4 linked regions of the Homo sapiens genome follow. The protein of the gene in region 1 purifies or fractionates together with the protein of each later gene. This does not show direct contact. Each region holds a gene or a part of one and is shown on either strand. Other genes may lie near its edges.

What was found. Proteins that work in one complex are often made in the same cells at the same time.
Region 2: the proteins of CADPS (region 1) and GORAB purify together in Homo sapiens (affinity purification with mass spectrometry; one large-scale study listed by BioGRID and IntAct). This does not show direct contact.
Region 3: the proteins of CADPS (region 1) and MINDY2 purify together in Homo sapiens (affinity purification with mass spectrometry; one large-scale study listed by BioGRID and IntAct). This does not show direct contact.
Region 4: the proteins of CADPS (region 1) and NUP98 purify together in Homo sapiens (affinity purification with mass spectrometry; one large-scale study listed by BioGRID and IntAct). This does not show direct contact.

What each region holds. Positions count from the first base shown.
Region 1 is NC_000003.12:62,868,917-62,872,416, reverse strand, and holds part of CADPS (calcium-dependent secretion activator 1), read left to right. Parts: intron 1-3,500.
Region 2 is NC_000001.11:170,538,666-170,542,165, reverse strand, and holds part of GORAB (RAB6-interacting golgin), read right to left. Parts: intron 2,957-3,500; coding exon 2,599-2,956; exon of another isoform or gene 2,595-2,598; intron 1-2,594.
Region 3 is NC_000015.10:58,777,802-58,781,301, reverse strand, and holds part of MINDY2 (ubiquitin carboxyl-terminal hydrolase MINDY-2), read right to left. Parts: intron 1-3,500. UniProt on the Homo sapiens protein: Hydrolase that can remove 'Lys-48'-linked conjugated ubiquitin from proteins. Binds to polyubiquitin chains of different linkage types, including 'Lys-6', 'Lys-11', 'Lys-29', 'Lys-33', 'Lys-48' and 'Lys-63'.
Region 4 is NC_000011.10:3,679,055-3,682,554, forward strand, and holds part of NUP98 (nuclear pore complex protein Nup98-Nup96 isoform 1 precursor), read right to left. Parts: intron 655-3,500; coding exon 500-654; intron 1-499. UniProt on the Homo sapiens protein: Plays a role in the nuclear pore complex (NPC) assembly and/or maintenance. NUP98 and NUP96 are involved in the bidirectional transport across the NPC. May anchor NUP153 and TPR to the NPC.

The DNA.
Region 1 (3,500 bases):
ATATATATATATATCTCCTTATTACAAAAAGAAGCTTTTTCACTGCTATATCTGTAAGTTTTTAATGCCTTTCTAGAGGTGTGTTTTGCTCCTTCAAGTAGAAAGCTTAGAACTCTGATTTTTTAAAAATAAGCAATGATTGAGAGTAATTAAAAGGTTTGCATAATCACTGTGGTAAAGTTTAAAGCCAACAAATAGTTGATGAGCTAAAGTTAGTCTTGGAGAAAGATAAACTAGTTGTAAACTAAACATGAGTTTGCAGTAGAATAGAAAAGGATGAACTAGAAAAAGAGGAAAAATGTAGAGAAAGGGATAGGATGATATGGAGGTCAGAGAGAGAGAGAACGAGATCTATGAAAAGGAATTGCTGAATTGTGGAGAAAAGACCATATTGTACAGAGTATAATGCACCATATGAAACCAAATAATCTATATCACAATACTCACACCACTTTTTCAAGTATCTACTATGTGCACGGCACATAGATCATTTTTTGAAGAATAGATTTTATCTTTCTGAACAGCTTTCAATTCACTGAAAAATTGATATACGGTACAGAGAGTTCCTATATACTCCATATCTAATTTCCCTTCTTAATATCTTACAGTAGTATGGGACATGGGTTACAATGAACTAATATTGATACATTATTATTAACTAAAGTCTGTAGTTTATTCAGATTTCCTTAGTTTTTAGCCAAAGTTATTTTTTTCTGTTCTTAAATCATTTTTTAAATCTCCTAACTCTAACAATGTACAAATTGCCATCCTCGTTTTTAAAAAACTGAGACTTGGAAATTTTGTTATTTGCCTAAAGCACCACGTAGATGGGTAAAAGATGGCAATTGAAGTGTGAAACATTCTGATTCCAAATCCTATCTTTTTAATATGAGATACTGGCTAGAAATAGTCTAGGATAAAAAGAGCCCTAGAATCCTAACAACATGTCAGGTGTACTTCTTTACCCAGAGTTATTTCTCTCTGAATTGAGAGAGGTCCTCCTTTCTTCCCCTGTACACCCATCAAATATAGTCACTATGGGCAAAGTGGATGCTTAAGTATAACTTCTTAAAGAATATGAAGGAGAGGGATGGGCTTTTAGTGGGTAAATTTAACACTAGACTGTATCAACTTTACTATGTCGTTTAAACTGAAAGGAAAAAGATTTTAGCTCGGAAGAACACTTCCGAAGGAACAGAAGGAGACAGTACCATCATTTGGATAATTTTGGTAATTACTTTGGTTTCACTTTTACTGAGAAAAAGAGCATTCCAACAATCTTCCTAATTAAAGAGGGGACTTTAAACAGACTATCTGAAAAAACATTTTATTATTTACCGATATATTATGTTACATTACTGTGAATTGAAATATAACATGGCGAAATAATTTATGACCAAAACAAAAATCTCCCCACCAGAATGTAACAATGTATGTTTCAGTAGCTCAGAAATGACAGTTTGGAAAGCAGTTCTTTGCTTTTTCTTCTTCTTTTGTCAGAATGGTAAAGTGAATACCTAGAAGTTGGCATGGCAAAGCTATACCATATGTTTCTAAACTATGTAGTAACGGTGATGGGTGGCTACCTTGTGTGAACTAGCTACTTATAGTGAGGGAATGTAAAAGCAGGCACTGTTAGCAATTCATGTAATATTTAGATTGACATGACCATTTTTTAAATGATGTAGGAATTATTCTAATAGTTTAAAATGAGCATTGTGTCTACATACATAGGTATAGTGTACATGTGTGTCTGTGCATGATGGGGGAAAAGGGTAATCCTTAAAACTGTCTATTACACAGCAATTCCTATTTCATTCAAGAGGACAAATGTCTTGTAAGTTCAAGCTACTCATTTCTGTATGATTCAGCTTGTATCTGCCCATGAAATGATGGCTAATGTTGAGTCATAGCCATAGAAATTCTTTCCTTATTCATTTACTTGGGCTTATTTGGGCAAGACTAAAAAGCCATACCTTACATAAAAAGACCTAGTGCTAGCTAACTATATATGTGTGTGAGAGAGAGCGCAAGTATGTGTGTGTTTTGAATCAATAATAAAGTTGTCTACTCAGATATATTTTGAGGCACTTTGGTCTACTCAAAATTCTTAAGGTTTGCTTTGTTAGTGCAATATATGACTTGCAGTCTAAAAAAAAATTCTACCTTTTGAGAGAACAAAGTGACGATTAAACCAATTTTTCTTTAAACAGAATTGTTTCTCTTCATCAGGGGAAGAACTGAATTATTTAAATGGGCTTGTTGGCATTCTCCCCTCCCCATTTTCCTTGGTACATTGGGAAGCCGCTGTTATGCACTGATAGCAGAGACTTTCTGAAGATGCGGAATACCATGAAAGGTTCTTGCCTCATTACACCCCTAGCATAGGCTTATGATTCCCTAAAACTGGACCGAAGAACAAAGGAAATTAAATGTTTCATTCCTGAAGAATTGCACTGAGTAAAATGATAAAAGTCAAATGACTTAGGGATCTTCCCACTGCAAAAGCAAATTTAATAAACAATCGTAAGCTATCATGTTGAAATATAACCAGCATCTGTGATTTGGGGACAGGTGTCTATAAAACTTAAGCTGGAATGATGAGAGTTCTAACCTAGAAATAAGTTCTAAATAACTGACCAGTTACTCATTGCACCAAGCGCTCACCCAGGCTTGATGGCAGAAGAAATTGGTACTTGTGAGATGTGGTTCCTGAACTGGGGGAGCTTCTAGTTTGGAAGATAACATATATGTCAAATAAGCTGAATAAGAAAGTTTTAGTTGTAAGACGCTGATTAGAAGTACTAAAGTGGGGAAGGAAGAAAGAAGAGTGCATGCACACACAGGATTGGATACAGTAGTAGAAAAAAATCTTCATAGAGAAAGTAGACTAGGGTTAGGTCTTTAAAAGTTAATTTCATTTGAGTAAGCATAGGAAAAACAGGTATTGCAGTCTGGAGAAGAACACTAGGTAGCAGAAATGTGGAAAAGAGTCACTGTTAGGCAATGTCAGTCAGATTCTGTTGGTTCTAAGTGACAGAAACCCAGCACAAGTGGCTAAATCAAAAAAGAGGTTGAGTGACTTACTGGTTCATGTAAGTGAAGAGACTGGTACAGAAGTGACTGCAGGAATGGCTGGATCTAGGAGGCTAAATGACTTCCATATCAGAATGAAAAAAGCTAGATGATGAAGGGAAAGGATATACAGATTTAGCTTCCATAATCCAAAAACATAATATCTGAAATGCTCTAAAATCTTTTTGATCATGACATGATGCTCAATAGAAATGCTCATTGAAGCACTTTGGATTTCAGATTTTTGGATTAGGGATGCTCAACCAGTATGACATAAATATTCTAAAATCCTTTAAAAATTCAAAACACTTCTGCTCTCAAGCACTGAGGATAAGGAATACTCAACCTATATTTTGAAACCTGTGTTTTAGCTCAAACCCTGCCACTAATGAACAACTGATTGTAGGCAAGACTCTGGGATAATT
Region 2 (3,500 bases), on another chromosome or scaffold:
AATTATGTATTATATGCAGAATGGAGATTAATAAAAATTGGTTTGTAGCTGATGTCATATTATTTATACCTTTTAGAGTTTTCTATAAAGTCTCCACCACCTTAACATGTTTCAGACAATAACCAATGTTTATTTCATATATTAATATTTTCTTTCAATTTGCTCACTTTTTCCCAACTCTTAAGACTTTTTTTTGTCTTTCTTTTTTCCTTTTTGTGGAGAACAGGGTGTCGCTATATTACCCAGTCAGGTCTCGAACTCCTAGGCTCAAGCTATCCTCCCGCCTCTGCCTCCCTAAGTGCTGGGATTACAGGTGTGAGCCACTGTGCCCAGCCCAACTTGGACATTTTTAAACAAAGTAAAACACTAAGAGCTAAGACTGGAATGCTGGGCTAAAGAAAAAAATTCAAAGATGTGAAAACATGTATTGTCTTACAATCTGTCCAATTCTAAAATAAATACATTAAAATTTCCCATAAAGTCATGAGCTTGATGTCAACTCAAATTAAACAAGGTATTGGCAAAGCTATTTATTCCTATTACTGTCACTTCTTACAGCCATTATATCACATACCTCTATTCCCAAATCTAGTAGCCCCTTCCAAAATTGTCCTTCTCTCTCCATTTCTACACCTTCCACCTTAGTGCTGGGACTGGTCATTTCTCACTTTTACTACTGCAGGCATCTCCTCACCAGGCGCCTTAGTTCCACAGCTCACTATGCACTCTCTTGCATATGATCTACAATATTGACACCTGGGATTTCTCTAACCTTTATTTTGATTGCGGCCTTTAGCCCTCAGAGAGCTTCATGGTAACTTGCTGCATTAGTGAACTTGCTAGGAAGGAAGGCATCCCCTGCTTCCGATCCTTTCTCATTTCTTTAATTCTCTACTTATTCATCCCCTGCTTCTGCTTCTGATCCTTCCTCAGTTCTGCTTTTTTTTTTTTTTTTTTTTTTTGGGACAGAATCTTGCTCTGTTGCCCAGGCTGGAATGCAGTGGCATGATCTTGGCTCACTGCAACGTCCACCTCCCAGGTTCAAGCAATTCTTGTGCCTCAGTCTCCCAAGTAGCTGGGACTACAGGCATGCACCACCACGCCCAGCTAATTTTTTTGTATTTTTGGTAGAGACAGGGTTTCCCCATGTTGGCCAAGCTGGTTTCAACTCTTGGCCTCAAGTGATGTGCCTGCCTCAGCCTCCCAAAGTGCTGGGATTATAGGTGTGGGCCACCACGCCTGTCCTCCTTCCTCATTTCTTTAATTCTCTACTGTTCTCTGGCTTATCCTTTGCCACCTCTCCCAGAGAAATGAGGTATCATCTCTGAACATTCTCTAGGACACAGCTTTCCTTTCTCCTCCTTAAAACCTCAAAATTTCTCCTTTACGTGAATGGTTTGAGGTTACAGGTCTTTTATGAAAATTCTTCCAAGTATCCAAAAAAAGAATAAGTTTCCCTATAACATCCAATCCAAATTGTCCAGCTCAATGTAAACTTACCTCCTATTTGTCTCCGGCCTTTGTTAGTAAACTACACTTAGAGACACTTTAATGTATGCACTTGTTCAATATAGGTTTCATAATTCATGTGGTTTTATAACTCTTGTCAAAATGATTTCTTAGTTGTAAACCCCTAGTGGACAGGAAACATTTTAAATTCACAGGATAGAATCTGGATCAGCAGAGATTAAAAAGATGTCAGAGATTAGAAAAAAAAAAAGATACTTTGAAAAGAACTCAGAAAAGAGAAAACAGAAAAATGTCATTCCTTCTCTGTGAGAGATAAATCAGGAGCAAACAAAGAAATAAGAGTATATATTAAAACACAAGCTATCAAATAAAAAATTCTAAGAATTTGCAAATCAAAAAATGGCATCTTCCACAAGAACAGTGTAGCTAAATTATGAAGGTTGTTTCTAATACAAAGACAGTAAAGAATAAATAAAAAGAAATCTAATGATGAACTGAGTTATATCATTAGTCCCCTAAATTTCCTACACTCTCTCCTTTGACCATCCCTTCACGTCTCTCCACAAGTTCCAATTTCTGGGCCAATGGAAATAGTCTGGAAGTTGAAAAAAGGGGTCAATTTGGGCAGAGGCACTATGCATATAAGAACTGCTTCTGAGCTGTGATTGCGCCATTGCACTCCAGCCTGGGCAACAGAGCGAGACTCCATCTCAAAAAAAAAAAAAAAAGAAAGAAAAAAAGAACTGCTTCTGCTCAGTGTAAAAGGCATAAACTTTGGATCCAGACAGACTTATCTGTAAATCTCTACTATTTACTAGCAGTGTATTAGCTTTAGAAAGGTATCATCTTTTCTGAGTCCCAGATACCTCATGTATAAAGTTTAAATAATAAACATGCATTGTAAGGCTGTTATGAAGACTAAAGAACATAAAACATACAGAATGCCTGTGTCCAGCTTATATTTAGGCAGTAGCTATTTTTCAATAGTTTATACATCACATTCCTATGATTGAATGAATATAAAGGAGAGAAAATGTTAAAATAAACAAATTATATTTCCTTAAAGCCCATTGGGAAAAAACGGGTTAAATGAAAAGTCTCATGGACTTTTCACATAGACTTACTAACAATTCCACTTTCTTTTTCTCCAATTTGCAATCTGGCTTTGGAGGTAGAATCTCAACATTGTTGTGACCATCATGGGAATTCTCAAGTCCCAGTTCCTTTGGCTGACTTTCAATGCCCTGTGGTTGTCCATCACCAACGGGGGAGGTGAGAGTGAAATGACTCGGAAGAGTAGGGGAAGAAAAAGGTGGTTTTTGAACGTTAACTCTCTGTTTTGGTGCTGAAAGCAGCTGCTCTGGAAGTAATGAGGTTGATCCATCTTGAAGCCCAAGTTTTTGGCTTTGCTCTACAAGGGCTTTTTCTCGCTGAAGTTGTTGTCGACTTTTCTTCGCGGGGAGACGTCGCTGTGGTTCAAATGGATCTATGTAAAAGAAAATAGAGGAAAATTCCTTTGTGTGGGCAGCAAATAATTATAATTCCTCTAAGAAAATAAAAAATTAACATTAAACGTTGATAATTCTAGTGGTTCTCCTACCCCATTCTCTATCTTGAAAGTCTAGGGGAAAAACAGCCATCTTCCTGTAGAGTTTCAATAGTTTTCAGATCATAATGTTAATATTTAACAGAAACTGCCCCATCTCTTAATTTATCTTCAGAGAAAGTCCATCAGTGAGTTAGGCCTTAGGTCACAAAGTGAAGTTTCTTTTTCAACTTGATTTCATAGTTGTCAAAAGAAAGCAACTAATTTTGACCAAATCAGGGAGGTGACTGAATTATCTGGTTTTAAATTTGATTTATGGTTCTGTCTGCTCTACTGAAACAAAATGGTGGTTGCATTTTCAAATGGGATTACCCTCTCTTAAATTTTAACAGCTTTTAGGGCAATTTGGTACATATGTGATACATATTCAGATGCTATAACAGGCATGTAATTGAGTGAAGTCTCTTATTTCTAGGAATGCTAG
Region 3 (3,500 bases), on another chromosome or scaffold:
GGTGGGCTGATCGCCTGAGGTCAGGAGTTCAAGACCAGCCTGGCCAACATGGTAAAACCCTGTCTCTACTAAAAATACAAAACAATTAGCTGGGCATGGGGGCAGGTGTCTGTAATCTCAGGTACTTGGGATGCTGAGGCAGGAGAATAGCTTGAACCCAGGAGGTGGAGGTTGCAGTGAGCCAAGACCACACCATTGCACTCCAGCCTGGGCAACAAGAATGAAACACTGTCTGGAAAAAAAAAATTAACTAGTAAAAGAAGGCATCTTCCATTCAGAATTCACTATTTATATTTAAGAAGCTCAGCAAGCTTACTAGGCTGAAATATCTCCCCCCTCAAAAATTGATAATAAAACTTTTACATTAATTGCTTGAAAGATGAGAATAGGGTAAGACAAGAGACCATTTTGAAGGCTACTAAGGTAGTCCAGGTGAGAGATAAAGGCCTGAACTAGGGTAGTAGCAGTAGAAACAGAAGTTACTAATGACTGAAAAAATCCAAGAATATATTTAATAAACTACAATGGGAAAGGCCAGCTGATTCACCTTAGTGCCCCAAAGAGACTCTGAAACTAGAAGTGTCAGACACTTCAGGAGACATAAGATAAAGTACAGAGAGCTAAAAACCGGAGTCTGTATAAAGACCAACTGGTACCAAGATCCCAGGAATCGATCTAAGGAATCATGAAGTCCATTTCTGCTTCTCTGACTTTATCATTGGCTGTCCCACCCTGTTTTGCCCCAGACCTACTGTCCACCAGACTTATTGCTATCTTGAACTTTATCTTCCCAATCAAACATCCTGAGTGAGAGCTCTGGTTCTAGAGTGGGTGATAATCTTACCTTGGACTAGTTATTTAAACTTTATGCACTTCAATTTTCTTTCTTTTTTTTTTTTGAGATGGAGTTTCGCTCTTGTTGCCCAGGCTGGAGTGCAATGGCGCTATCTCGGCTCACCGCAACCTCCCTCCCAGGTTAAAGTGATTCTCCTGCCTCAGCCTCCCGAGTAGCTGGGATTACAGGCATGTGCCACCACACCCGGCTAATTTTGTATTTTTAGTAGAGAAGGGGTTTCTCCACGTTGGTCAGGCTGGTCTCAAACTCCTGACATCAAGTGATCCGCCTGCCTCGGCCTCACAAAGTGCTGGGATTACAGTGTGAGCCAACCACACCTGGCCTCAATTTTCTATATATATAAAATAAGAACAATAGTCTACATAAGGATTTCATGATGTGGTTGAGAAACTTAAAAGAGAAAACACATACAATGCATGTAAAATAATGCACAGTATCTGGACACAAAAATAACTGAGTACTTACTATTATTATTCAAAGCCCCTATGATTGCTAGTACCACCTGGGCCCAAATGTCCTTCACCTGGGACTCAACAGACAAGGTTGAATGGGGAGTGAGAAGGTTTTTAACTAAAAGACTACTCATACCAAGGGGAGAAGAAAAAATGAACACATCTATCACTATTAGAGGGCAACTCCTACTGGCGGTATTTATACTCTCCTCAGCCCTTGTCTACCTTATCTTACAAATCCAGAGTTACAACACCAATTCTAATTCTTGGAGGAGACTGGGAATGAAAGCCTCAGAAAATGTTACTTAAGTCTTTTGTGTAAACAAAACCCCACAATTGTGTGAAGTTTTAATCTCTTTTTACAGGATCTATATTTAAAAACAAGGTGGGCAGAGGCTAAGATGGAACCTTTGGCTCACCATCTGTTTTTCCTTTTTTATAAGTAATAAACACACTTGGAAAACCTCAAAAGAGCTCTGTGCTACTTCAGGAAGAGAAAATTTGTGTGATTACAATGTTTCTGCAAGTCAGAGGAAAAAGCATAACCTAGATGGAAACTAGGAGAGTATGTGAAAGAATCTGAGGGAAAAAAGTCATCAAGGAGGTAGGGAGAAATAGAGCAAAAACTCAGCCCTGGCAAGAGGCTCACCTTCATGGTGCCTCACTTTGCAGGTGATGAGACAATAGCATACGTCCATTCGAACTTTGAATTTTCTGTTAACAGCCTTTTGTTCATTTTGCCATTGTGCTGTTCACCCTTTTCTAATTTATAAGGGCTCTTTGTAAATTAAGAAATTAGGGTTGGCCATGGTGACTCACGCCTGTAATCCCAGCACTCTGGGAGGCTGAGGCAGGATTACTTGAGGCCAGGAGTTCAAGGCCAGACTGGACAACATGGTGAGACACATCTCTAAAGAGAAAAAAAAAAAAATGGTTGGGCACAGTGGCTCACGCCTGTAATCTTAATAGTTTGGAAGGCTGAGGCGGGCAGGTCACTTGAGGTCAGGAGTTCAAGAACAGCCTGGCCAACATGCTGAAACCCTATCTCTACTAAAAATACAAAAATTAGCCGGAAACTGCATGAACCCAGGAGGCAGAGGTTGCAGTGAGCCAAGATCGTGCCACTGCACTCCAGCCTGGGCGACTAAATGAGATTCCGTCTCAAAAAAAAAAAAAAAAAAAAGAAAAAAAGAAAAAAAATTAGGTGGGCATGGTAGCACACACCTGTGGTCCCAGCTACTCAGGAGGCTGAGGTGGGAGGATTGCTTGAGCTCGGGAGGTCGAGGCTATTCGGAGCCATGATTGCACCACCACACTCCAGCCTGGGTGACAGAATGATAGTCTATCTCAAAAAAAAGAAAAAAAGGAAATTAGCCCTTAGACATATAATCTGGCAAACAGTTCCCTTAGTTTTTAGTGTGTTTTGATTTAGTTTATGGTGAGGTTTTTTTTTTTGGTGTGTGTCTGTTTTTTTAAGCTTTTTTTTATTTTACAGAATCAAATATATTAATCCTTATTTTACAGTTTCTAGGTTTGATGTTTGGAGAAACCAACTTTATATAAAAAAAATCCTGCTTCAGGACCCTGGCATTCCTCCCATGACTTGGAACAGGAGATAATCTCAGCTTATACTAAGCAAAGAAAAAAATTGGGAAAAGAATTCCCTACCAAAAAGAGTTAAGAAGGAAAGGAGATGTGTTTCCAGCATCTTAAATTAGTGCATTCATTTTTCTACTAAAATGCTATACAATGACTAGATATTGCAATACTCTATCTTCTCTATCACAATGTATAGTATAGGTTACATGTAAGTTTTTTGTATGTATGTTGGCCTCAGAACCTATAACATTCTTTCTAAAATAAAAAAAAAGTATAACCAAGTAGGGATTCCCTCTATTACTAAAGAAATATCTTTGTAAGCACTAAAATATATATGTTATATACCTTCTGGCTTAACTTCATAAACACCTAATTACATGGGTCACAGCCCTCAAATAAACCTATAAATAGCACTTATTACAGCTAAAATAAGATTTTTAAAAACTATTAAAAATCAAATATAGTCAAAAAGAAGCAAAACAAAAATGTATTCTAAGTCATACATTTTGATAAATTTACCTGGTATAATTTGTAATTTGAGCCCAGGAGTTTGAGACTAGCTGGGGCACTATAGTGAGACCCCGTCTCCATAA
Region 4 (3,500 bases), on another chromosome or scaffold:
AGAGGTTGCAGTGAGCCACGATCACACCACTGCACTCCAGCCTGGATGACAGAGCAAGACTCTGTTCCAAAAAAAAAAAAAAAAAAAAAACTGACCGAAGACATTGACTTTAAAACCCATATTTGCAATTTTAAAACATGCCAAATGATGTGTAAAACAGCTATCCTCACCCTCACCAAATCTCCATTCTTATTTTATCTCTCATCTTTGGGCTTCTCACTCAAACTAGGACTGAACAAGGGGAAGAGACTGTCTATGGACAAGCCTCAGGAATGTCTATTGCACATACTAGTTGGTAATCAACATAAAATAGCATTTTTAAGTTTCGATATAGCTGTCAGAAACGGTTATATCAAATGAGCCTCAGCAAGATGCCTGCTTTGACAGTGCTATCTCTGTCAGTGCATTCTCAAGTGTATACTAAGGCCTTGTGAGGTATCTGAAGATTTAAGGGCCTGAGAAAAGGAAAATCAGGCAGCAGTTTCAGGATCTCAGGTACCTGCTGTATATGGCGGAGCATTTCAATGACTCTAATATAGTCCAGGTAAACAAGCCCAGATGTTTCCCAATCCTGAATTAGGCTGCTGCGCTCTGGAGGTGCCAGGTCTTCCAAGAACCCCTTCAGGTAGTCATAGTTCTCATTAATGATGGCATCTGAAGAAACAAAGTATTGAGCACAATGTCTGCACAAGTGCATAGTTTCCAAAAGTACAGAAGACATGGCAGGAAGACAGAAAGGAAGGAGAAATAATGTTGGCTGGACTTCAGAAGTAAAAGCACATACAGGCATACCTCAAAGATACTGTGGGTTTCATTTCAGACCACCACAATAAAGCAGGTATCACAATAAAATCACAAATTTTTTGGTTTTCCAGTGGATATAAAAGTTATGTTTACACTATACCACTGTCACTTATTAAGTGTGCAACAGCATTATGTCTAAAAAACCAATATACATACCTTAATTTAAAAATATTTTATTGCTAAAAATGTTAATCACTTGAGCCTTCAGCAAGTCATCTTTCTGGTGGTGGAGGGTCTTTCCTTGATGCTGATGGCTGCTGACTGATCAGGGTGTTGCCTGCTGAAGGTTGTGATGGCTATGCTAATTTCTTAAAATAAGATAACTGAAGTCAGTTCTCTCAAACCCAGCTGCTGCTTTATCAACTAAGCTTAAGTAATATTCCATATCCTTTGCTGGCATTTCAACAATGTTCACAGCATCTTCACCAGGAGTAGATTCCATCTCAAGAAACTGCTTTCTTTGCTTGTCTATAAAGCAAACTCCTCATGAGTGACACCAGTTCAGTCACATCTTCAGGCTCCATTTCTAATTCTAGTTATCTTGCTGTTTCCATCACATCTGCAAGTACTTCCCCCACTAAAGTCTTGAACCCTTCAAACTCATCCATGAGGGCTGGATTCAATGCCTTCCATACTCCTGTTATTTAATGTTGATATTTTGACCTCCTTCCATGAATCACAAATGTTTTTTGTGTATTTTTTTGTTGGGGTCTCACTCTCTCACTCAGGCTGGAGCACAGTGGCACGATCTTGGCTCACTGCAACCTCTGCCTCGCAGGCTCAAGTGATCCTCCCTCCAACCTCAGCCTCCCGAATAGCTGCGACCACAGGTGTGTGCCACCAGGCCCGACTAATTTTTTTGTACTTTTGGTACAGATGGGGTTTCACCATGTTGCCCAACCTAATCTCGAACTACTGAGCTCAAGAGATCCACTCATCTTGGCCCCCCAAAGTGCTGGGATTACAGGTGTAAGCCACCATGCCCGGACCCAAATGTTCTTTTTTGTTTTTCTTTTCTTTAAGACAGGATCTCCCTCTGTCACCCAGGCTGGAGTGCAGTGGTGTGATCATGGCTCACTGCAGCCTCAACCTCCTGGGCTCATGCAGTACTCCTGCCTCAGCCTCCTGAGTAGCTGAAATTACAGGAACATAACACCATGCCTGGCCAATCACAAATGTTCCTCTCCCACCATCCGCCCCAGACAGGGTCTCACGGTGTTGCCCAGGAAGGAGTTCACTGGCATGGTCGTGGCTCACTACAGCCTCAACCTCCCTAGGCTCAGGTGATCCGCCAATCTCAGCCTCCCAAATAGCTGGGAATATAGGCACGCACCACCATGCTCAGCTAATTTTTGTATTTTTTGTAGAGATTGGGTTTCACCATGTTGCCCAGGCTGGTCTCGAACTCCTGGGGCTCAAGCAATCTGCCGCTTTGGCCTCCCAAAGTACTGGGATTACAGGTACGAGCCACCGTGCCTGGCCTACAAATACATCTACAATGGTGAATCCTTTCCAGAAGGTTTTCATTTACTTTCCCAGATCCATCAGAGGAATCGCTATCTATATGGCAGCTATAGTCTTATGAAATGTATTTCTTAAATAATAAGGCTTGAAAGCTGAATTACTCCTTTGCCCATGGGTTGCAGAGTAGATGTGTTAGCAGGCATAAAAACATTAACCTCCTTATACGTCTTCATCAGAACTCTTGGCTGACTAGGTGCATCATCAATGAGCAGTAATATTTTGAAAGAAATTTTTTTTTTTTCTGAGCAGGTTTCAACAGTGGGCTTAAAGTATTCAGTAAACTGAGCTATAAACAGATATGCTGTCATCCAGGCTTTGTTTTTCCGTTTACAGAGCACAGGCAGAGTAGATTCAGCATAATTCTTAAGGGCCCTAGGATTTTTAGAATGGTAAATGAGCTTCTGCTTACCATCACCAGCTGAATTAGCCCTAAAGGGAGAGTTAACTTGTCCTTTGCAGCTTTGAAGCCAGGCATTGACTTCTCTTCTCTAGCTATGAAAGTCCTTGGTGGCATCTTCTTTCAATAGAAGGCAGTTTCATCTACACTGAAAATCTGTTGTTTAGTGTAACCATCTTCATCAATGATCTTAGCTAGATCTTCTGGGTAACTTGCTGTACCTTCTCCATCAGCACTTCCTGCTTCACCTTGCACTTTAATGGAATGGAAAGACAGCTTCTTTCCTTAAACTTCATGAAGCAACTTCTGCTAGCTTCAAACGTTTCTTCTGTAGCTTCCTCACCTCTCTCAGCCTTCACAGAACTGAAGGGAGGTTAGGCTTTTGCTTAAGGGAATGTTGTGGCTGGTTTCATCTATCCAGATCACAAAAACTTTCTCCGCATCAGCCAGAAAGCTGTTTCACTTTCATATCATTTATATGTTCACTGGAGTAGCACTTTAAATTTCCTTCAAGAACTTTCCTTTAACACAACTTGGCTGTTTGGCAAAGAGGCTTATCTTTTGTCCTATCTTGGCTTTCAACATGCTTCTCTCTGTACACCTAATCACTTCAAGCTTTTGTTTAAAGTTAGAGTTGTGCTACCCTTCCTTTCACTTGAACATATTTAGAGGCCATTGTAGGGTTATTAACTGGCCTAATTTCGTGATTATTGGGTCTTAGGAAATAGGAAGGCCCAAAGAGAGGGAAAGAGATGGGGATGACCAGTTGATGGAG